Linked DNA regions of Homo sapiens. The protein of the gene in region 1 purifies or fractionates together with the protein of each later gene. This does not show direct contact. Each region holds a gene or a part of one and is shown in the gene's direction. Other genes may lie near its edges.

Region 1 (3,500 bases):
GGGAAGACCAGAAGGGTGAGAGGGGCCCTGAAAGTTCATATGGTGGGTATGTCCCGCAGCAGAGTGAGGAGATGAAGCTTACGTGTCCTGACGTTTTGTTGCTTATACTGTGATATCTCATCCTAGCTAAGCTCTATAATGCCCAAGACCCCAAACAGTACTTTTACTTTGTTTGTACAAAAACAAAGACATATAGCCAATACAAATCAAATGCCGGAGGTGTTTGATGCCATATTTGCAAATTGCCATCTATTGAAATTCTCGTCACACTACATAGACATAATTGTTATCTCCTTTTGGCTTATGTGATTTTCTGTTTACAAGTAGAATAGCCAATTATTTAAATGTTTAGTTGCCACAGTGAACCAGGAGTCACTGAGCCAATGACTTTACCAGCTGCTGACTAATCTTCATCACCACTGTAGATTTTGCTGCATGTGCAGGTCCTCTATTTTTAATTGCTGTTTTCGTTGCTGCAGTACTTTACAAACTTCTAGTTCGTTGAGACTTAGTGACCATTTGGCATCAAGTTAACATCACACAATAGGAAACACCACTTCCACAAGTCTCAAGCCTCAGTGCTAAAGTACTACTGAAAAGGAACTAGGAAGTTTGGCCAATTAAAAAAAAAAAGTAAAATAAGTTATAGTGGTCAGGGAATCTCTTGACGAAAGCTAACTCTTATTTTTCAGGGGGCACATGTTTTGTTTTGTTATGTTTTGTTGTACAATGAAGGATGAACCCAATGCTAAAAAGTCAGTTATTTTCTTGGTTTTCCATTTCTTGTATATAAATTGTGTTGGAGGTGGGTAGGAAGCTGTGAGTATGACTTGAAGAAAAATATCCTTTTCAGTGACAAATCAGAGTTTCTTACAAGTTATTGTCCTGCTCCCTTCCAAGTTGTCTTGAAGAATCCTTGCTGCTAACTCTGGATCCTGCTTTTCCTATAGTCAGAGGGCTCCAAGGTAGAACTCTCTAAGTCCCTCTCAATGGCACTCTTTGCCTAGACCAAACTAATGACCAAACAGTAATCAATCTATCACTGTTGAAGTCCTGGTTTTCTCAACCAAATTTTAAGTCTTTCCCAGGTATGTCAGTCGAGTTGCCATGAATCCTCACCTGTAGGAGTTTCTGGGATTCATTTTAAGGAAACTGGAAGAAAATTAATGTTTTAATGTAAATGTTTTTAAAACCAAGATCACCATAGAGTTCACACAAAATTTTAGGCAGTGTTTCAAGAAGCACTCTTATGTGTTGTTCTTTCAGCCCATGCTCCAGGTCACCGGTTTTTAGGTAAACATGACATGACATGTACTTGTAATATCAGTGAAAGGGGCTTTTAGTCGTCTCAGTATCTTTTTTGCATTCAGGTATTATAGCGTTTCCAACAAATTGAGAAATTACTTATTTGGTGTAAAATGACGAGAGAGCTTTAGAATTTAATAAAATGTCAAAAATACAATTTGATACCCTTAAAAATTATTCATAGATCTGGCTGCTCTGTACTACTGGATGGGTGGAATAGGGAAGCAGATCACTTTTGCATACAAAAACTCTTTCAAACCCAAAATATTATTGGTGGTACATTTTAAAGTCCAATTGTGGACTTAAATTAGTCAAATTGAGAGTTACTGAGTCCATTCAGATCTCCAGTAGGGTTTTGTATCTAATGTATTTGGCCACCAGTTTTACATGTAGGTCATGACTATACCTGGATTTTATCATTAAGTTAACTTTAAAGTATATACAGTTTGCAAAAAATGATTCAAATTAATTGGTTTGTATATGTTTGTGAGATCTAGCTTCTGAGGAATCTCATACATAGTAGGAACCATCATAGAGTAAAGCTTGTAGCAGAAAAATTGGAAGGGTTTTGAGATATCCTAGAGAAAGAGCAAGCACTTTCTGAATCAGTGGGGAAATATCAATATTTGATCAAATTAACACTACCTCCTTCCCAGTGTTGGTGTTCACTCACTATATGTCTTTAAGAAAATTAAAACTATGGAAAATTTGTCTAGCATATCAGAAGTTGTAAATGCTATATCTGGTATCCAGAGGCTGGCTGTAAAAAGTTCCTTGGGGTCACTCTATCTCACATTTTTTTTGGTTAGCATTTTAAAAATGCAAAGCCACATACTTTGAAATATATTATTCCAAATTGAGCTCCCTTCCCTTTGCACATATTTTTTCCTCCCCTTATTGAAGTCAGCTCTAACCCCAAATTCTAGTATCCAAAAGTATTTTTATTTGTATAATGCTATCTGAAAAATGTGTTTATATTATATTTTCAGAGCTGCAATTCTTATTCGCCATTTCAATACCTAGAGATAGAGAGTCTTGTATTTGAAGCCACACACACTGGTGTAATATGCTTAGTACTCTAGGTCAAGGATTTGTTGGTAAATGGAACATTTTAGCATAGTCATGATTTTTGGTTGCCTAGACATCAGGTAAACATTCAGTACACTAAAGAAACTATCCTGGACACTCCCTCCTGCTTCCACCAATTTTTTTCTCACCCCCTTTTCAAAAATTGAAAACTCTATGAGTGTCTTTTTGAGACCATAAAGCAGACTTTAGTAACTTTCTATTTCTGTAAGTACTAAATGTCTGGCATTTTAAACTTTTGTAGAATACATTATGTTGGACACTGGAATAATACTATTTATTTTCACCTGTGAAAAATGACTTCATTGTACTTGAAACACCTCCTTTGCATTTCTCCATTTGTGCCATTCACTAGTGGAAATAAATTGTATTATACCATGATCTACTGGCTTTTTAAAACTGTATTAAATATGCACATTTTTGGTATAGCTATTATCATTTGTATGTATATATTGTATATACATATGAGTGTCTGTATGTGTGTATAGATGGATGGATGTAACTCATACTGTACATTTCCATCAGGGCACTTAAAAGTTCTGTTATTTTTGTTTGGTTTTGTTATTTCAGTCCTCAGTTAAGGCAAGAATGCATGTGTTTCTTAAGAATGAGTACTCTGCGTTGATGTTTATGAGAAGGTGGTCATTAGATGCAGTCTTTTCCTTTTTAATCCCCTCTTAGCACTTCTGTGAGTGGAGAGGACATTAAGTAAAATTTGGAATCATAAGTTGCAATGCAGTAAAATGGTGCTGGGGAAGGAGCCAGTTAGTGTTTCTGTGAGTTTGTGTTGTGATGCAATAAGAGATAAGTAATGCAGAGAGAAATGAACCATGGAAAGTAAGAACACTGATGGTGATTCCTCTGCAAAGATGATAAGAAAAAGAACCAATAAATCACACAATCTTTATGTGCTTTCTATATGTATTTCTTAGTAGTGATACCATTGATCCTCTTACTTTTTTTACTCCATTAATACTAATAATTATATACTTTGCTGAGGATCAAAACAGCCAAGAAAGGAATTACTGCTAAAGCATCTAAGATTCTCCTGAACTGTAAAATCAACAGGAAATGGCCACTGGGAGAGAAGGATTTGGTATTGGGTGAGG
Region 2 (3,500 bases), on another chromosome or scaffold:
GTGATCCTCCCACCTCAGCCACCTGAGTAGCTGGAACTATAGGCAGGTGCCACCACACCGGGCTAATTTTTGTATTTTTTGTAGAGATGGGGTTTCGCCATGTTGCCCAGGCTGGTCTTGACTTCCTGGTCTCAAGTGATCCACCCACCTCATCTTCCCGAAGTGCTAGAATTACAGGTGTGAGCCACCACACCTAGCACCCCTTTTAAATATCTCTAGAGATGGATCCATGTGAAGGCTCCTAGTATGTAAATTTTGTGTATCTGTTCATTATTTTGGGAACTGAGTTCCATACCTTTCATTAGATTTGTTAATGGGCTCAGAACCACAAAAAAAGTTAAGAACTACTTTTTATCAGAATTACAAATGCATATACTTTTTGATCTACTAAGTCTCTCCTGGGCCTTCATTTTATAGATAATGATGTATAGACACTAATCTCCTCTTGTCTGCAGTTTCACTTTCTGTGGTTTCAGTTATCCGTGGTCAACTGCAATCCGAAAATATTAACTGAAAAATTCCAGAGAGAGACCACATTCGTATAACTCTTATTACAGCATCTTGTTACAATTGTTCTATTTTATCATTAGTTATTGTTAATCTCTTAGTGTACCTAATTTATAAATTAAGCTTTATCATAGTTATGTGTGTATATAAGAAAAAACATAGTATATATAGGGTTTGGTGCTATCTGCCATTTCAGGTATCCACTGTGAGGGTCTTGACTAAGGGAGGACTACTGTACAAGATTATTCACTGAGGCCAGGCACGGTGGCTTAACGCCTGTAATCCCAGCACTTTGGGAGGCCGAGGCAGGAGGATCACTTGAGGTTCAGAGTTTGAGACCAGCCTGGCCAACATGGCGAAACCCCATCTCTACTAAAAATACAAAAATTAGCTGGGTGTGGTGGTGCACGCCTGTAGTCCCAGTTACTCAGAAGGCTGAGGCAGGATAATTGCTTGAACCCAGGAGGCAGAGGTTGCTGTGAGCCCAGATTGCACCACTGCACTTCAGCCTGGGCGACATAATTAGACTCCGTCTCAAAAAAAAAAAAAAAAATTATTCATTGCAACATTATTTGTAATAACAAAAGACTAGAAACCCAGATGTTCATTAACACTGGACTGCTTAGTGTATTCAATATTTATATAATGGAAAATTGTGTAGCTTTGAAAAAATGAAGATCTCTATGTACTGCTATAGAAAAATCTCCAAGATATATTAATGATAAAGAGGAAAATACAGAACAGTGTGTATATGGTATAGTTTTTGTATTAAGTCAGGGGGAGAATAAGACCATACGTTTGCCCACATATATGGTATGCCTAAAGAAACAAAGGGTACACAAGAAACATAAAGTGGTTATTAATAGGAAGTAGCTGGTAAGGGAAGGTAGTAGCAGTGGGAGTGGGACTCCTTACTGTATACTTTCATATATTGTTTGATTTTAGAACCGTGTAAATATATTACTTAAAAACAAAACACTATTCTAACCAATCTAGCCCACCTATTTCTGTTCAGTAGCAAAAGAACTGTGTTCTATCTAAAATGTTGTTGCCTGCACAGATTTTGGAGAAACTGGCATAGATGTATTTTGGTCATAAGAGTGTAGATAATTCATATTTGAACTGAAACTTGTGTCTTAAAAGCTAGTTTTTCAATGTTAACAGGCTGGAAATATTGTTAATACAAAAACCTATCACTGTGTACCTTATGGTACACCAAATAAACAAGGTAAAATTATACAAATGTATCATTAAAAAGCAGCAGTAGAAAACCATGACCATGCAGAGGTAGCCCTAATCATGCTCTGAAAACAGTTCTTTGTTTCTAAAGTCCAGTTGTGTGCATTCCCCAGGCTGGCTCTGCAGAGTTATCAAGTGCTTCAGAGCAGCCTCCTCTCCTGAGGCTGAATATGAACCTGCCATTCACTCTGTTATTGTCTAGTTTTAGTTAGGAACATGAGGTGATCATAACTATACTTTGTAGGTTATTAGGGAATATAATTTTACATGTTGTAGTCATATGTAAAGGTAGAAGTTTGTGGACTCCAACCCCAGTTTATTCTCTCTCTAGATTTGCTTTTCCTCCTGTGTCACTAGATACAAGGTCTTCCTTGGTCTGTGTACGGTTTTCTTCCCACTCCTTTATGATTTTGGGGGAGTTCTCATTTTAGGAAATTTACATTTTTAAAAAATATGTGACTTTCCAACATGGCACATATATACATATGTAACAAACCTGCACGTTGTGCACATGTACCCTAGAACTTAAAGTATAATTTTAAAAAAAGTGACTTTCATTATAACTAAATTATACCTCAGAGCTGGTGTACACACCTCCATATACATTGACAAAAGGTAGTATTTGCTAAGCTCCTGGTATGTGGCAAACGCTGGGTAACTGCTTTACCTAGAAGTGATTTTATTTAATCCTTCAAGTGCCCTGTGGAATAGAGATTAGTATCCCCATTGCACATGTGAGGAAACTGAGGGCTAGAAAGGTTCTGTATTGGATGCCTGTGTATGCCGAGGCACTAAGTAACTTTCATCTTTTAGTTTCCCATTTAAGGAATCTATTCTGGCAGATGATTTTGATCCTGTTAGTATTGATTGCTTTCAGATGCCTATTTGTAAACTGACTTAAGTAAAACCAGCATTACCCATTATTCTTGAGGAATGAACTGTTCTGGTCAGCTGGGCTTTTTTGATTAACTGAGAACGGAAAGCCCAGTTTTTGTTTTTGTTTTTTTATTTGGGAGTTTTTTCTTAAAGTCTCTATAAAATAATCTAGATTCACTTTCATATCTGTGTGACTAGCCTAGTAGACAGTCTATGTGTGATTCTGCTTGTAGCTTTTGGGATAAAGCCTAAAAGTTGTAGTTCCACACATGAGGTTGTGCAGGATCTGACCCTTCCCAACCCTGACCATAATTCCTACTCCATTCCCTTACCCGCACGATTTTCTCCATTCAAATGCCCTGGGAAGGCCAAGCTGGTGGACATAATTAAATCACGAGTGGATGAGGAAAGTCTTAGTCCTCTGAATGTTATCATTCTTGAATTGCGCTCCAGTAGTGAATGCCTTTATCTCAGGTGTGTGTATCAGTCAGCTTGAGCTGCCATAACAAGGTACCGTAGACTAGGTGGCTTAACTAACAGACATTTATTTTTCTCACAGTTCTGGAGGCTAGAAGTCCAAGATCAAGGTGCTGTCAGGATTGGTTCCTGGTTGAGGCCTTTCTTCCTGGCTTGTAGAAGGCCACCTTTTTATTGTATCCACATATGAATTTTCCTCTCTGTCATTGAGGAGAGACGGAGATCTCTGGTGTCTCTTCCTCTTCTTAGAAGGACACCAGTCCTCTCGGTTTAGGGCCCCACACTTTGTAACCTCATTTAACCTTAATTACTTCCCTGTATTAGGCAGCAGTCTCCAGAGAGACAGAAGCAGTAGGATTTATGAGGTGGGATTTGTTAGGGGAATTGGCTCACACGATCAC
Region 3 (3,500 bases), on another chromosome or scaffold:
GATTACAGGCGTCCGCCACCGCACTTGGCTAATTTTTTGTATTTTTAGTAGAGATGGGGTTTCTTCATGTTGGCCAGGCTGGTTTCAAACTCCTGACCTCAAGTGATCCGCCCACCTCGGCCTCTAAAAGTGCTGGAATTACAGGCGTGACCCACCGCGCCCGGTGAGTTCTTTTCATTTTAGTGTTTAAAAACACTTCCCTCTAGTTCCTTGTATGTTGTTGGAGGGCCTTAACACCACTCTCAACTTTGGCCATGTGTTAAAATCACCTAGGATTTTGTTTGGCTTTACTTTCATGACCAGGCCTGACTCGACCTAAGATTTGACCTTGAGAGTTACCCCAACAGTTACTGTGTGAGCGGAGGGGACGGGCCATCAGTTGGGGTGACAGGGAAAGGGCTGCACAGTGCTTGTCATGACCGCATCCCTTGCTTCTTCCCAATTTGTTCCTGGCTGTAGTGAAAGTCACAGAGTCCACAGGATGCAGGACTTCGATGGCCAGGTGGTCCAGGTAAGAGAGATGGGCCGAGAGCTGCTTGTTGTGTTCCTGGGGTGCTTTTGAAAAGTTGAGATTTGGGTAGGGTGATGGCAAATTTGTTAGGGGGATTTTCTGAATTAAATTATTTTAGTAAAAATTGTAGCCTACTTACTATAGGCCAGGATTTATGCTAGATTCTAGGGATACAAAGTTTAATAAGATTTTGGGGCCGGGTGTGGTGGCTATACCTGTAATGCCAGCACTTTGGGAGGCCGAGACAGGTGGATCACCTGAAGTCAGGAGTTCCAGACCACCCTGGCCAACATGGTGAAACCCCGTCTTTACTAAAAATACAAAAATTAGCCGGGTGTGGTGGCACATGCCTGTAATCCCAGCTACTCAGGAGGCTGAGGCACAGGAATTGCTTGAACCTGGGAGGTGGAGGCTGCAATGAGCTGAGAGATTGCACCACTGCACTCCAGCCTGGATGACAGAGCAAGACTCTGTCTCAAAAAAAAACAGATTTTTGGGGATGACACTCTAGTGAGTGAACAAGTTAAAAAGCTAACTGAGGCCGGATGTGGTGGCTCACACCTGTAACGTCAGCCTCTGGGGAGGCTGAGGCAAAAGTATCACAGCACTTGCTGTATTCATGCATATGTGCATTGAAATATTTATGATAGGTACCTACCATGAGCCAGGCACTATTCTGGGGATGAGAATAAAATGGAGAGCAAAATACAGCTGGCTTAGAACACCACAGCACTAATCATACTGTGATACGGCTGGCTTTTTGGTTTTATTTGGAAATTTTTTAGAGGCAGGGTCTCATTCTGTTGCCTAGGCTGGAATGCAGTGGCACGATCATAGCTCACTGCAGCCTTGAACTCTTGGGCTCAAGTGATCTTGCCTCAGCCCCCTGTGTAGCTGGGTCTACAGGTGTGCATCACCATCCTCGGCTAATTATTTTAAAGAGACAGATTCTCACTGTGCTGGCCAGGCTGGTCTCAAACTCTTGGCCTCAAGCCATCCTCCCGCCTTGGCTGCCCAAACTGTTGGGATTATGGGTTAAGCCACCATGTCAGGCCTCCTTCACCTATTAGACTGAGTGACTTTGTGCAAGTTACCAGACATCTCCAAGATAGTTTCTTTTTCTTTTTTTTTATTTTAGTGCAGTGGCACAATCTCAGCTCAGAGCAACCTCTGCCTCCTGGGTTCAAGCGATTCTCGTGCCTCAGACTCCCGAGTTGCTGGGATTACAGGCATGTGCCACCATACCTGGCTAATTTTTGTATTTTTAGTAGAGATGGGGTTTCACCATGTTGGCCAGGCTGGTCTTGAACTCCTGACCTCAAGTGATCCACCTGCCTTGGCCTCTCAACGTGTTGGGATTACAGGAGTGAGTCACTGTGCCCAGCTGAGATTCAGTTTCTTACTAGGTGGTTTTGGTTATTGACTTAACACAATGCCTGGTGTAAAAATTGTTCAATAGATGGTGCTTTTCTTTAGGCAGTTAGAAAAATGAGTTTGGAACTGAGGAGAGTTGTTGAGACCAGAGATCACAGTGCAGAGGCCACAGTTAAGCATTGAGAATGGCTCCCATCTCCCAGGGTAGCATGAGGAGTGAGGAGAGAGGAGGGCAGGAGACACACCCTGGAGAGAGATCCCAACAGCAAAGGGTCTGAAGTAGAGGCTGAGTGTGTGAGCAAGGCTGGAAGCTGTGAAAGTAGAAGAGAGGGCTGGGAGGAGAAGGGTTATGGAGAAGGGGTGGTTCTTTGGAGATGGCGTGGGATGGATGGCAGAGCTCTTGGATTTGCCCCTTTGGAGATCTGCATTTTACTTTAACAAGAGCAGTTTCAATGCAGTGGGAGACTGGTAGATTGAGAAGGAGTAAGATGAGCATGGAGCAGTCTGCCTGGACCATGCTCCAGGTGCCCAGGAGCGGCAGGCGATGGTGCTGGTCCTTCTTTGGATGAGGACACCAGGGTTCTAAGTATTTCCTCTCATCCCCCTTACCTCTGTTTGTCTGCTAGGTCGCCTGTGGTCAGGATCATAGTCTGTTCCTGACGGATAAAGGAGAAGTCTATTCTTGTGGATGGGGTGCTGATGGGCAAACAGGTAGAGTTCTTTTCATGCACTGGGGTCGTGAAACTTCTCAGCCCGTGTCATGTGGAGCTGTGAGCTGTAGGGCATTTATGGGCTAGAACCCTTCTTCCTTAATTCAGCTCTTACCTCTTATCACTTTCTGAGGAACACTATTCTTGGCTCCATCGCCCAAGCTGGAGTGCAGTGGCGCGATCACATCTCACTGCAGTCTCAAACTCCCAGGCTCAGGTGATCCTCCCACCACAGTCTCCAGAGTAGCTGGGACAACAGGTGTGAGCCACCAAGCCCAGCTAATTTTTTGTAACAACAGGGTTTCGCCATGTTGCCCAGGCTGGTCTTGAACTCCTGACCTTAAGCAGTCTGCCTGCTGTGGCCTCTTGGTGGGCTGGGATTCCAGGCAGGAGCCACTGTGCCCTGCTGTAATACTTTTTTTTTGCATCCCTTCCATTCCCCTCAGCCCTGGCTCCCATAGAAATGAACTGAGAGAAGGCTGGGTGCAGTGGCTCACACCTGTAATCCCAGCACTTTGGGAGGCCGAGGTGGGCGGATCACTTGAGGTCAGGAGTTTGAGACCAGCTTGGCCACCATGGCGAAACCCCATCTCTACTAAAAATACAAAAATTAGCTGGGTGTGGTGGCACACGGCTGTAATCCCAGCTACTAGGAAGGCTGAGGCAGGAGAATGGCTTGAACCCGGGAGGCGGAGGTTGCTGTGAGCCAAGATCGCGCCATTGCACTCCAGCCTGGACAACAGAGCAAGACTCTGTCTCAAAAACAAACAAACACAAACTGCAGAGAAAAGGACAGGCAGGACCTGCCCAAAGGCAAATGTCATTATTGGCACTTGGTATGGGGGTAACCCCTGGCCAGCAGCCCAAGGCAGAGCACTGAACTGTAGACTCTTGCCTTCATCCAG
Region 4 (3,500 bases), on another chromosome or scaffold:
TCTGTGTTTTCCACAATCTCTTGGAGACCAGAGATCTTTTGGAGACCAGGTGTTCTTATTTTTAATGGAAGCCAGTGTAGCCTAACAACCTAAGAACACAGGCTCTGGGTTCAAATCTCCACTGAGCACCTGCTAGTTGGATGAATTGGGCAGGTTACTTAACCTGCCCCTGCCTCTGCTTCGTCATCATAAAATGAGGATAATGGGACTTCACTATGGTATCGTCGTGAGCATTAGATGGGTTGAAGCCTTTAACATTTGTAGAACTATGCCTGGCACATTGCAATAGACGATAGCTGTTATCTATCCTAGTCGTGTGCTACAGAATGACCAATTTGGTCAATGATGCACCACATATACGACAGTGGTCCCGTAAGATTATAATCCATTTTTTATGGTACCTTTTCTGTGTTTAGATATGTTTAGATACACAAATGCTTACCATTGTGTTACAAGTGCTTACGGCATTGAGTACAGTAACATGCTGTATAGGTTTGTACACTAGGAGCAATAGGCTATATACCATATGGCCTAGGTGTGAAGTAGGCTATGCCATCCAGGTTTCTGTAAGCACACTCTATGATGTTTGCACAACAATGAAATTGCCTAGTGACACATTTCTCAGAATGCATCCTCGTGGTTAAGTGCATGACTGTATTATTGATAAAGTCATCTGCCTTCTCGATCTTCTCATCACTTCTGAGAGTTGTAGATAAATAGCTCTCCCCTCAAAACAGCCTAAAATTGACTTAGCTTTGCATTGCTAAAGAAGAGGAAAAGCCTCGAAGTTGGGATGTTTAAATAGAAACTTTCAACAAGAATCTTTTGCTCCTGCTTCAGATTGAGAATTCAGCAGAGGAGTTTGCCTTGTACGTGGTCCATACGAGTGGTGGTAAGTCTGAAGACCACAGTGTACTTTAAAACTTCTAATTAACTCAAAATAGCAAGTTAAAAAAATACCTCTGCCTCCTTTGCTTGTTGTTTGAGTTTTGGAAACTTCCAAATGTTGTTTGCCTTCAAGGCTGATGGGCTTGCTGTATGAGTCTACTAGGGATTGCCTTATATGGCCAGTAAACAAATTCTAAACCTAACTGCCTATTAAAAGAGGAACTAGATTTTCTTAAGAGACAGATAAACCCAATTCCTCCAAGGAGTTTGAGGCATGGTGGTATTGTTGAGGGGTGAGGAGTGGGAGGAAGTTGCTTTTCACAACACCTATGGAATAGTTCACTTATAAATCAGTCTCCTGACGTATATGGCGGCATCTCCTAAGGTGCCTTTGGACCCCTGCATTAACCACTACTTAATGTGAGAAAGGCCTCTCAGGGCTGCTCCTGGGTGTGTGTGGTTGCAGAGAAACAGAAGCTGAAGGCCACCGATTACCCGCTGATTGCCCGAATCCTCCAGGGCCCATGTGAGCAGATCTCCAAAGTGTTCCTAATGGAGAAGGACCAGGTGGAGGAAGTCACCTACGACGTGAGTTCCCTTTGGGTCAGGCGATCTGTCCTCAGGAGGGTGGGGATTTGGTTGGACCACCTGTAACTGGGGTATAGAATGACTTTTTTGACCAACGACCATGCCCCCTTTTACTTCTTCAGCACCAGGTTCTCTCGAAGCCAGCTTTTGCAGAGTAACAAACATCTCCAAATCATAGTAGCTGACAACAGCAAACATTTGCTTTTTTGCCCATGATTCTGTGGTCTAGTAGCAATGGCTCTACTCTAAGTATGGGTTGAGTTCAAGTCTGCACTGTGTGACTCACCCAGAGGCCCAGGCTTTTGGGGCAGTAGTTACTGCACATGGGTGTGGTCCTCATGGCAGATGGCGGAGCATGAGAAACCAGGCCAAATCATGTAAGCATATTTGAAGCCTCCACTCAGATTTGGTGTGTCATGTCCACACACATTCCACTGGCCAAAGCCAGTCACATGGACAAGCTCAGCATTAATAGGGTAGAGAAATGTACTTATCCCAGGGAGAAGAGTTGATAGAGCAGGGTGGGGATTCTTGTGGGGAAAGGGAAGCCATTTTTTAACTTTTTTTTTTTTTTTGGGATGGAGTCTCGCTCTGTTGCCCAGGCTGGAGTGCAGTGGCACCTCCCTGGTTCAAGCTATTTTCCTGCCTCAGACCCCTGCGTAGCTGGGACCACAGGTGTGCACCACCATGCCTGGCTAATTTTTGTATTTTTAGTAGAGACGGGGTTTCACCATGTTGGCCAGCTGGTCTTGAACTCTTGACCTCAAGTGATCCGCCCGCCTCAGCCTCCCAAAGTGCCGGGATTACAGGCATGAACCACGATGCCTGGCACCGTTTTTAAACTTTAACTCACCCCATAGCCACCCACAGCCTCTCCAAAGCGAGTTCATATTTGGATGCTTGTTTGAGCCTTGAGACCCAAATCGTCATCTGGAACCCTGATTCCTTCCATTCTCTTAGGGGAGAACAAAGGGGTTTATTAAACATAATGGGTTCAGTTCTTTCTCTGCATCACTGTGTCAAAAGAAAGTACTTTTCTGTGTTTGGCTTCACCTCATCATGAATTGAATGCATGACATGAAAAATGAGAAGTTATGAGATGGTGTCACGTAAGCGAAGCGATCATCGCAGACTCCTTCCCACCCTGGTGAGGAATGAGGCTTGGCTGCTGCCTTTAAGGAAATCCTGGGTTTCTGAAAAAAATAGACTTCCCAAGGCTTTGTGCCTTGTATAAGGACAACCCTGAAAGGAATTGGAATAATGCTGGGAAGGGCATTCACCCAGACTTGCTTCTTTCTCTCTAGGTGGCCCAGTATATAAAGTTCGAGATGCCGGTACTTAAAAGCTTCATTCAGAAGCTCCAGGAGGAAGAAGATCGGGAAGTAAAGAAGCTGATGCGCAAGTAAGTGTGGCTTCTGGGGCACTGGGTGCACTTCTCCTGGGGCCTCAACAGAGGGGCCTCTGCTGGGTCCTCGCAGGGACTGTGCTGAGCTGCTGCATGGGCCTGAGTCTCGGCTTTCTTTGGAGGGCTGCCCATTGACAAACCTGGATTTCAAGTGAGGACGTGACAGTTAAGTGTGTTCATCTACTTCTTGTGTCAGCTTCTCGTTTTGATGTGGGACATCAAAGTGTCTCTTGTCCTCCCTCTTATGGAAAGACTCTGAAAAGAAGGTGTTGGTTTAAAATTTCTTTGGGGTCTAGATGCAGAAATAGGGAAGGTGACTGTACGCTGGTTTCTTAAGTATACGATCAGGCTCCCAGCAGGAGACAGATGCTCACTCCGATGAGGGTCTTTGACGGGTGTTTGAAGAAGGGACTATTTGCGAAGACTTGGGCAGAGTCTGGGGTAACCTCAAGGGATAGTGCAGTCCCTGGGGCTAGTGTTACCACCCCTTGCCTGAAGGGGTGAAGGCAAGGAGTGCTAACCAAGACCCGGAGGTTCCAGGGATTTCAGGAAGGCTGTCTTAGCCGTGGATGTAGCCTGAGCTACTGGCCTCCAAAATCCTCTCCTCTCCCCCTTCCTC
Region 5 (4,232 bases), on another chromosome or scaffold:
ATTAAAATGAGTAATCCTAAGAGTTCCAATTCAGTTATCAGATGGTACCCTGCCTTTGGGCGTGTCCTCGAAAAGGCTTACGTTTTCCAAGGCAGGCAAAATGAGGTAAGTAGGGGTAGCCATTATGAAAGGACATCTTAGAAAATGTTAACCAGGAAAAACGTTAATGAGGATATTGCAGAGATTTTAGGTTGAGCATACTCTTGAGTTAAAGAAATCGGTTACTTATGAGGAAACCTATTATGTGGCAGGCATAGATGCTGGAAATACAAAGAGTTGGACAGGTCTTGCTTTCAAGGAAGCTTCTAATAATTATACAAATAACTACTACAATATGAGGCTGGTATTAGGCGGGGGCTTGCACAAATTCCAGGGAAAGCTTCTTAACGTGGAAATGGGAGGAAGAACAACAATATGATGCATATTAAATCCAAGAGAAGGAGCAGAGTCATTTAGATGTCATTTCAAACTTACAGTGACATTGGCTCTTGCTGGGGGGGAAAGGGGGGCGAGAGAGGCAGCCGTTGCCAGACATACGTCACACTAAAGAGACAAGATGAAACAAGGAAATTCTCTTTCAAAACATAGCGGGGAAAAAAATATCCAGAACTGCCCTGAAATAAAGAAAACCTTCTGGTATAATGTGCGTTGCTAGGGATTTATTTTTTCCCCTCCTTTCTCTCATAAGAGAGTAAAAAATCACACAGATACGTTCAAGCCCTTAAGAGTTTTGTGAGCCTATTGAATATCCAAGACATCAACTGACCACGGTGTGGTTCAGTGTGTGTCTACAAAGGAAGGGTTAAACGGAAGGGGGTGGCTTGGAGATAGAAAGGCAAGCAAGAAGGTTGGAAAATGCTGTTTTCCAACTTGCAAAAACTGAACTTTTCAGCTCCCCAAAATACACGTGTGTGTCTGTAAGCGCAGGCAGATCTATTTCGGTAGGATTTTTCTTAAATTTAAATCATAATTTCTCTGTTTCTGTCTCTCTGTCTCTTGCTGCGCTGCAAAGAGTGAGCAGCCCCCTTAAGGATCGCGTGGCAAAAGCTGCAGGAGAGGCACTGGCAGGGCTGTTTATTTATGAGCCGCGTTCAAAGCCGACCTCTTCCCATTCTCCCACTGCAAACGACTATCTCCGAGCCCAGGTCACCTCTGGGGCCAAGGAGTTGGGGGCTGGGGCTCGGGTGGCTCCTTCTTCGGGCCAAGTTTGCCCGCGCGTGGGAGCGAGGGGGCGAGCCAGGGCGCACGGGAACGCGCGCCGCCAGCCGCCGCCTCCGCCCAGCGCTGGCAGCCCCGGCCTCACCTCTCCCCTCTCCCCAGCGAGGTGCGGGCTCCCAGAGCGGAGCCAGGGGGCGGGCCTGGGCCTCGAGGGGCGGGGTCAGGGGGCGGAGGCTCGGGCGGCTATATAAGGCCCGCGCCGGCTCAACTTCGGACTTGGTGTTATTTATTTGGGAAGCGCCCGGACGGCGGAGCTTGGCGGCGGCGGTGGTGGTGGCTGCCGCAGACTGTGGTTAAAAAAAAGAAGGCGGCGGCGGCGGCGGCGGCGGAGGCGGAGGCAGCTGCGAGGCATGGGAGCGCCGAAGCGCCCAGGCGCAGGCCGAAGCTGCCGCGCTTTCTGGGCACGGCGGGAGTGCTGAGCAGAAAGGGGAGCGCCGGGGGCCCGCAGCCGGCTCCGGAGGCGCGGGCCGGGTTTTTGTTTGGCTACGCTGAGCGCCAGTCAGCCCCAGCGAACAACTCCAGTTACGACAACAACCCACCTTCCTTCCAGACAAGCGAGACTTGGGCTGCTGCGTCCGTCCTATTGTTTAGACACTTGCCAGGGGCTCCGGAGTCGGCAGAGCCACCGAGTCCCCGCTCTGAGTCGTCGCCCTCCCTCTCCCCGACCTCGCTCCCTGGAGCGGGAGGCCAGGAAAGCAGCGGGAGAGGGGAAGGGGCTAGAAGGAGAAGGACTACCCGGGACTGCGGCCGCCGCGTCAGGTGCAGCGCCAGGAGCCGGGCGGCGTCGCCACGCCGGCAGGGGTACCGCCACTGTGGCCTTGGGGGACGGAATTCAAAGCCTGGGAAAAGTTGCTGCACTTTGAGAAGGACGAACCACTAGTGGGAGACCGCCGGGGGCCGGCCGTGGCTCTGCGCCCTCCGGAACCCGGCTCTTGTTTCTTCTACCTTTGCCATCAGGTGTCTGCCGCGGAGCTGCGGCTTATCTGGGAGACGAGCGGGGTTGACACGCGCGCACACACTACTGCCATTCAGCTGCCGCCTGGCTCTGCCTGGAGTAGTGGATCCCACCCGCCCACCTGCCACCGAGCCATTCTCCAGTACGCCCCAGCAGGACGCTGACACCTCCAACCTTGGCCTTTGCCTTTCCACTCCTTCCGGTCTGCCTGGTTTTTAAGTCCGCCCCCAGTCAGTCCCCACTCAGTCTTCGCAGCAGCTCTCATCCTCCACTTGGCCTCTTGGAGTTCCTCGCCGGAGTGCTGACTAGTGGATATTTCTGCCCGGCTGCGGCGGCCCGACTGCCCTTTTGTCTTTTCTGCGTGACCTCGGGGCAGGTCCTGGTGCAGAGCGTCGCCAAGGACGCCGAGCGGGAGGCGGGATTGCCCAGACATCCTTCAGCGAAGTGCATGTGTGTTTGTAAACCATCGTTGGCTGTCGGGAGACCGCGAGGACCGGTCCAGGCTGCGGCGGAGTCGAGGGCGAGGGAGAGGCCGCGTGAGTGAGCAGAGTCCAGAGCCGTGCGCCCCCAGAACTGCGCGTCCGCCCCGTGCACCCCCGCGCGCCATGCCCAGTTGCCCCGCGCGCTCTGCTACGGGCCCGCTGGGCTTCCGCGCCTTCTAGCTTCCGGAGCCCACTTTGATCGGGGCCATAATACCTATTGAGATCCCCTCTTCTGTCTTGTACCTTCGCCACTGGCATCGGATTTGCAGAAGCGTGCGTGGGATCAGAGGACCGCCCTCCCCACAACAACCGGCCCCTGCATCTTAGCAGCCGTTGGAAGCCCCAGCTCTTTTACCGCCAAGTTCATCCTTGGGAGACAGAAGACGCGTGATCTCCTCTCCGCTGCTCTTGGGGTCTCCTTGCAGCCCTGGCCAGGCGGATTCATCCTCAGGACCTAAAGTTGCCCAAGGAGCTCCTGCTCTGCCAGAGGAGGGTGGAGAGGGCGGTGGGAGGCGTGTGCCTGAGTGGGCTCTACTGCCTTGTTCCATATTATTTGGTGCACATTTTCCCTGGCACTCTGGGTTGCTAGCCCCGCCGGGCACTGGGCCTCAGACACTGCGCGGTTCCCTCGGAGCAGCAAGCTAAAGAAAGCCCCCAGTGCCGGCGAGGAAGGAGGCGGCGGGGAAAGATGCGCGGCGTTGGCTGGCAGATGCTGTCCCTGTCGCTGGGGTTAGTGCTGGCGATCCTGAACAAGGTGGCACCGCAGGCGTGCCCGGCGCAGTGCTCTTGCTCGGGCAGCACAGTGGACTGTCACGGGCTGGCGCTGCGCAGCGTGCCCAGGAATATCCCCCGCAACACCGAGAGACTGTGAGTATGCGCTCTTCGTCTTCCCCTCTCCCCATCCGGGCCGCGCACCCCTGCCTCCACTGGAGGAACCTGTCAGCTCAGGGTCCTGTGCCTGGGGCAGCCCTCGCTAGCTCTCCCCCATGCACATCCTGGGGTTGAGCTCTCCGGGAGGGCACTGGCCAGGGAAGGGCCTCTGTCCAAGGAGGGGCGGGTCCGCTGGCAGCTGCGCTAGTTCTCCCTCCCCTGCTCTCGTCCCGCCACTCGCAGCTCCTTGCTGGCTAGTTCTCTGGGGCTGGGGAGCGGGTAGATAGGGGACAAGTACTGGAGGATGCCCGGGGCAAGTGAGACGCCACTTTGTTCTCCAGAGTCCATAAACGGAGTCACCTTGCGATTGCCAGCATCCAGGTCGGTTTCAGAGCCCAGTCCTCGCTCTTGTCGCAGGCTGGCGCGGAGGGGATAGCAGGGAGACTCAAAAGAGAGAAACTTGCCTTCCCCGATTTTTTGTCACCCTCCTGGGGGCGAAGGTTAGGAAGAAGGGGTCATGGAGTGCCTGGGGGTGCTTCTCACAGGTCGCGGGGAGAAGGGTGCCCCAGGACGGCGACACCTCGCATAGTAGCCTCGCGCAGCCCCCCGCCCCCCACTTCTCCGGGGAGGGGAAGACGGCGTCAGGCCCCTAGGGACTTGTCTCAGCGGGCGACTGCGAGGGAGGACCGTGTCCCATCCGTTAAGCG
Region 6 (3,500 bases), on another chromosome or scaffold:
CAAAGCCCCCGGTGTCCCCTTCTTGTCAGTAACACCCGTCCACGTGTCCTACTGCTATCCTGACTTCCAGCAGCATAGATTTGTTTTGTCCATGTTTAAGGGCACCTAAGTGAAATCATATAGGATGACATACTCCTTTCTCTCTGGCCCCCTTCACACAGCACGTGTGAGACCCATCCGTGTTATTGCTACCTGTGTTCTTCCTTCAAGTTGGCTGTATGTGGTCTGCTGTGTGTTCATTCACCAGTTATGTCTCCCTTCTTCCAATCATGGGGGTTTGGGTGGGGAGTTCCAGTTGGGATTATTTGGATTAGCACTGCCATGAACATTCCTGTGTGTATCTTTGGGTGAACATACGTGAGTGTTTTCGTTGGGCACTAATGTTTCTCCTAAGTGGTTGCACCAATTTCCACTCCCTCTGGCAACCTGTGTGTGTTCCAGTTGCTCTGCATTATTGCCAACACATGGTATGGTCAGCTTTTTAAAATTTTGGCCGTCCTGGGGGTGGGGGTGGGTGCATAGTGCTTTTTTTTTTAAGACAGTTTCATTCTGTTGCCCTGGCTGGAGTGCAGTGGCGCGATCTCAGCTTGCTGCAACTTCCACACCCCACCCCCATTCAAGTGATTCTCCTGCCTTAGCCTGCTGAGTAGCTGGGATTACAGGCATCCGCCACCATGTCCGGCTAATTTTTGATTTTTTTTTTTTTTTTTTTTTGAGACGGAGTTTTGCTGTTGCCAGGCTGGAGTGCAGTGGTGCGATCTCGGCTCACTGCAACCTCTGCCTCCTGGATTCAAGCGATTCTCCTGCCTCAGCCTCCCGAATAGCTGGGACTACAGGCGCGTGCACCACGCCCAGCTAATTTTTGTATTTTTAGTAGAGATGGGGTTTCACCATGCTAGCCGGGATGGTCTTGATCTCTTGACCTTGTGATCCACCTGCCTCGGCCTCTCAAAGTGCTGGGATTGCAGGTGTGAGCCACCATGCCCTGCCTAGTTTTTGTGTTTTTAGTGGGGATGGGGTTTCACAATGTTGGCTGGGTCTCGAACTCCTGACCTCAAGTGATCCGCCCACCTCAGCCTCCAAAAGTGCTGGGATTACAGGCATGAGTCACCATGCCCGGCTGCATTTGGTTTTACTGAGCTGAGTTTGAAGAAAGAAATCACTAAGTGAAGAAGGGGGAAGGGCATTCCAGGCAGATGGAACAGCATATGCAGAATTAGGGAGGCACGAAAAATACTTGCTGAAACTGTGTGTGGCAAACAGCAGAGCTAGAGCCAAAAGTGTGAGGGAGGGGACTTTGAGAGCTTCATCAGGGAACCTGGATGTTGTCCTGAGAACAGCCGAAAGCCATGGAGAGGTTTTTCTCATTTTGAGCCAGTATCTGCAGTGCGTCAAGCATTTTGTAATTTCCATGTGTTGGATGAGAAAACTAAACTGAGACACAGAAGGACCAATGACTTGTCCAGAGTCACATTAGTGGAGGCCCAATAGGTAGAGTGGTATTGGGCTGGGAGCCAGAGGACCAGAACCATGTGGGTAAGTGATTCAACTTCCTAGCCTTGGTTTACTCACCTGGAGAATGGGAGTGCTGATGATAACACCTCATTTGGGGATGTTGTGAAGCTATAGAATTTCAAGGACCTGGGACAGGCATTATTATTCTCATTTTATTATGGTTATCTCTCCATCAGCATGGCCACACCCACCTTCACCCTTCTCTTGCAGCTGACAGGGTGGGGGTGGGCTCTCTGAGCTCCCACACTTAAGAAGGGCTAGCCCAGAGCTCCTGCCCTAACACCCTGTTTTCCTGCCCCATGACAGATCTCCTAGGAACTAAAGATTGCTATGATGGTTAATTTTATGTGTCAGCTTGGCAAGGCTTTGGTGACCAGTTGTTTGGTCAAATAAAGGTAGTTTTTAGATGCAGTTAACATTAAATCAGTAGACTTTTGAGTCCAGCAGCTTACCCTCCATTATGTGTGGCCCTCATTCAATTGATCAGAGGCCTTCAGGGCAAAGACTAAGGTTTCTCAAAGACGGAATTCAGCCCCAAGACTGCAGCATAGAAACCCTGCCTGGGTTTCCAGCCTTCTGGCTTGCCCTACAGATTTTGGACTTTCCAGCCCCGACAATCGCATGAGCTAATTCTTGAAAATACATTTCTCTCTCTGCATAGATAGATATCCTATTGGTTCTGTTTCTCCAGAAAACCTGGACTAATATGGTTGCCATTTATCTTCCTGGATCTTCTCATCTGGGAAATGGGATGAAGGAGGCAATTTAGACCTGGATGCATTCAAGATACGTTCCAACCCCCCAAAAGTTCAGTAAACTTAGCAGCCATCAGGGCCCGTAGGGAATGGGTGTCTTGTTAGCTGAGGGTTCTGGTTAACAGAGCATTCTCATCCAGACTAGAGGTTGCAAACTCAGAAGTCTACAGAGACCTGGCTGGAAGCTCGGTGTGTGAAGCCAGCAGGGCTTGTATGGAGACCAAGTGTGACACCTGCCTCATTATGCCAAATCCAACTACACTAGAGCCATCCCTGGGGTGTGGTCAGCCATGGGGTGGCCACATTGCAACTTCTGATCTGTAGCCTCGTGTCTCAAAGTGTGGTTCCAGGGGGGCAGCCCCAGCATCAGCTGTAGCTTGTTAGAAACACAGAATTTTAGGCCCCTCCCCAGACCTGCTGGATGACAATCTGTATTTGAACAAGATGCCCCACGTACTCAGCTAACCTGTGATTTGTGTATACTTAGCCCACATCAGAACCACCAGCAGAGCATGTTAAAACACAGGCCTACGGGCACCACTCTAGGCCTTCTGCTAGAGCAGGTCTGGGTGGGCCCAGCGTGCTGCATTTCTTTTTCTTTTTTTTTTTTTTGAGACAGGGTCTCACTCTGTTGCCCAGCCTGGAGTGCAGTGGCATGATCACGGCTCACTGCAGCCTTGACTTCCCGGGCTTAGGTGATTCCCCCCATCTCAGCCTCCCAAGTACCTGGGACTACAGGCACATGCCACCATGCCCAGCTAATTTTTTTTTGCCATTTTTTGTAGAGACAGGGTTTCACTATGTTGCCCAGCTGGGCTTAAATTCCTGAGCTCGAGATCCACCTGCCTCGGCCTCCCAAAGTGCGGGGATAACAGGAGTGAGCCACCGCACCCGCTTGGTGCTGCATTTCTAGCAGGCTCCGGGGAGATGCGTAGGTGACCCATCTGGAAACCACACGTGGTGACAGCTCTGAGCCACCACAGGAGCCTCTGCTATCAGAGATGAGACCCCACTGCCAGGATATGCTGGGTGCAGAAGGACTTGGAGGCCCTGAGGGTCCCAGAAGCCACAGCACCCAGGAGTGGGCCCCACCTCGAAGACCTTGAGGGCTGTGTATCCAAGCCCATAATTCAATCCCTAGTCCCCCGTCACTACCATGGTCTCTCTGGGCTTCCCTATGCTGTGTCCACCAGCCTGGAGGGAGAGCCTAGAGCCGTGTTTCTCAATCAG

Evidence for each region.
Region 2: the proteins of TAOK1 (region 1) and TRPC4AP purify together in Homo sapiens (co-immunoprecipitation; one large-scale study listed by IntAct). This does not show direct contact.
Region 3: the proteins of TAOK1 (region 1) and RCC1L purify together in Homo sapiens (affinity purification with mass spectrometry, with the first as the bait; one large-scale study listed by BioGRID). This does not show direct contact.
Region 4: the proteins of TAOK1 (region 1) and RASSF2 purify together in Homo sapiens (affinity purification with mass spectrometry; one large-scale study listed by BioGRID and IntAct). This does not show direct contact.
Region 5: the proteins of TAOK1 (region 1) and SLIT2 purify together in Homo sapiens (affinity purification with mass spectrometry, with the first as the bait; one large-scale study listed by BioGRID). This does not show direct contact.
Region 6: the proteins of TAOK1 (region 1) and CPNE2 purify together in Homo sapiens (co-immunoprecipitation; one large-scale study listed by IntAct). This does not show direct contact.

What each region holds. Positions count from the first base shown.
Region 1 is NC_000017.11:29,543,863-29,547,362, forward strand, and holds part of TAOK1 (serine/threonine-protein kinase TAO1), read left to right. Parts: 3' UTR 1-3,500. UniProt on the Homo sapiens protein: Serine/threonine-protein kinase involved in various processes such as p38/MAPK14 stress-activated MAPK cascade, DNA damage response and regulation of cytoskeleton stability. Phosphorylates MAP2K3, MAP2K6 and MARK2.
Region 2 is NC_000020.11:35,040,808-35,044,307, reverse strand, and holds part of TRPC4AP (short transient receptor potential channel 4-associated protein), read left to right. Parts: intron 1-3,500. UniProt on the Homo sapiens protein: Substrate-recognition component of a DCX (DDB1-CUL4-X-box) E3 ubiquitin-protein ligase complex required for cell cycle control.
Region 3 is NC_000007.14:75,060,303-75,063,802, reverse strand, and holds part of RCC1L (RCC1-like G exchanging factor-like protein), read left to right. Parts: intron 1-459; coding exon 460-511; intron 512-2,511; coding exon 2,512-2,596; intron 2,597-3,500. UniProt on the Homo sapiens protein: Guanine nucleotide exchange factor (GEF) for mitochondrial dynamin-related GTPase OPA1. Activates OPA1, by exchanging bound GDP for free GTP, and drives OPA1 and MFN1-dependent mitochondrial fusion. Plays an essential role in mitochondrial ribosome biogenesis.
Region 4 is NC_000020.11:4,785,609-4,789,108, reverse strand, and holds part of RASSF2 (ras association domain-containing protein 2), read left to right. Parts: intron 1-840; coding exon 841-892; intron 893-1,354; coding exon 1,355-1,476; intron 1,477-2,780; coding exon 2,781-2,878; intron 2,879-3,500. UniProt on the Homo sapiens protein: Potential tumor suppressor. Acts as a KRAS-specific effector protein. May promote apoptosis and cell cycle arrest. Stabilizes STK3/MST2 by protecting it from proteasomal degradation.
Region 5 is NC_000004.12:20,250,473-20,254,704, forward strand, and holds the start of SLIT2 (slit homolog 2 protein isoform 1 precursor), read left to right. Parts: upstream 1-1,432; 5' UTR 1,433-3,343; coding exon 3,344-3,522; intron 3,523-3,760; exon of another isoform or gene 3,761-3,829; coding exon of another isoform or gene 3,830-3,906; intron 3,907-4,232. UniProt on the Homo sapiens protein: Thought to act as molecular guidance cue in cellular migration, and function appears to be mediated by interaction with roundabout homolog receptors.
Region 6 is NC_000016.10:57,099,083-57,102,582, forward strand, and holds part of CPNE2 (copine-2), read left to right. Parts: intron 1-3,500.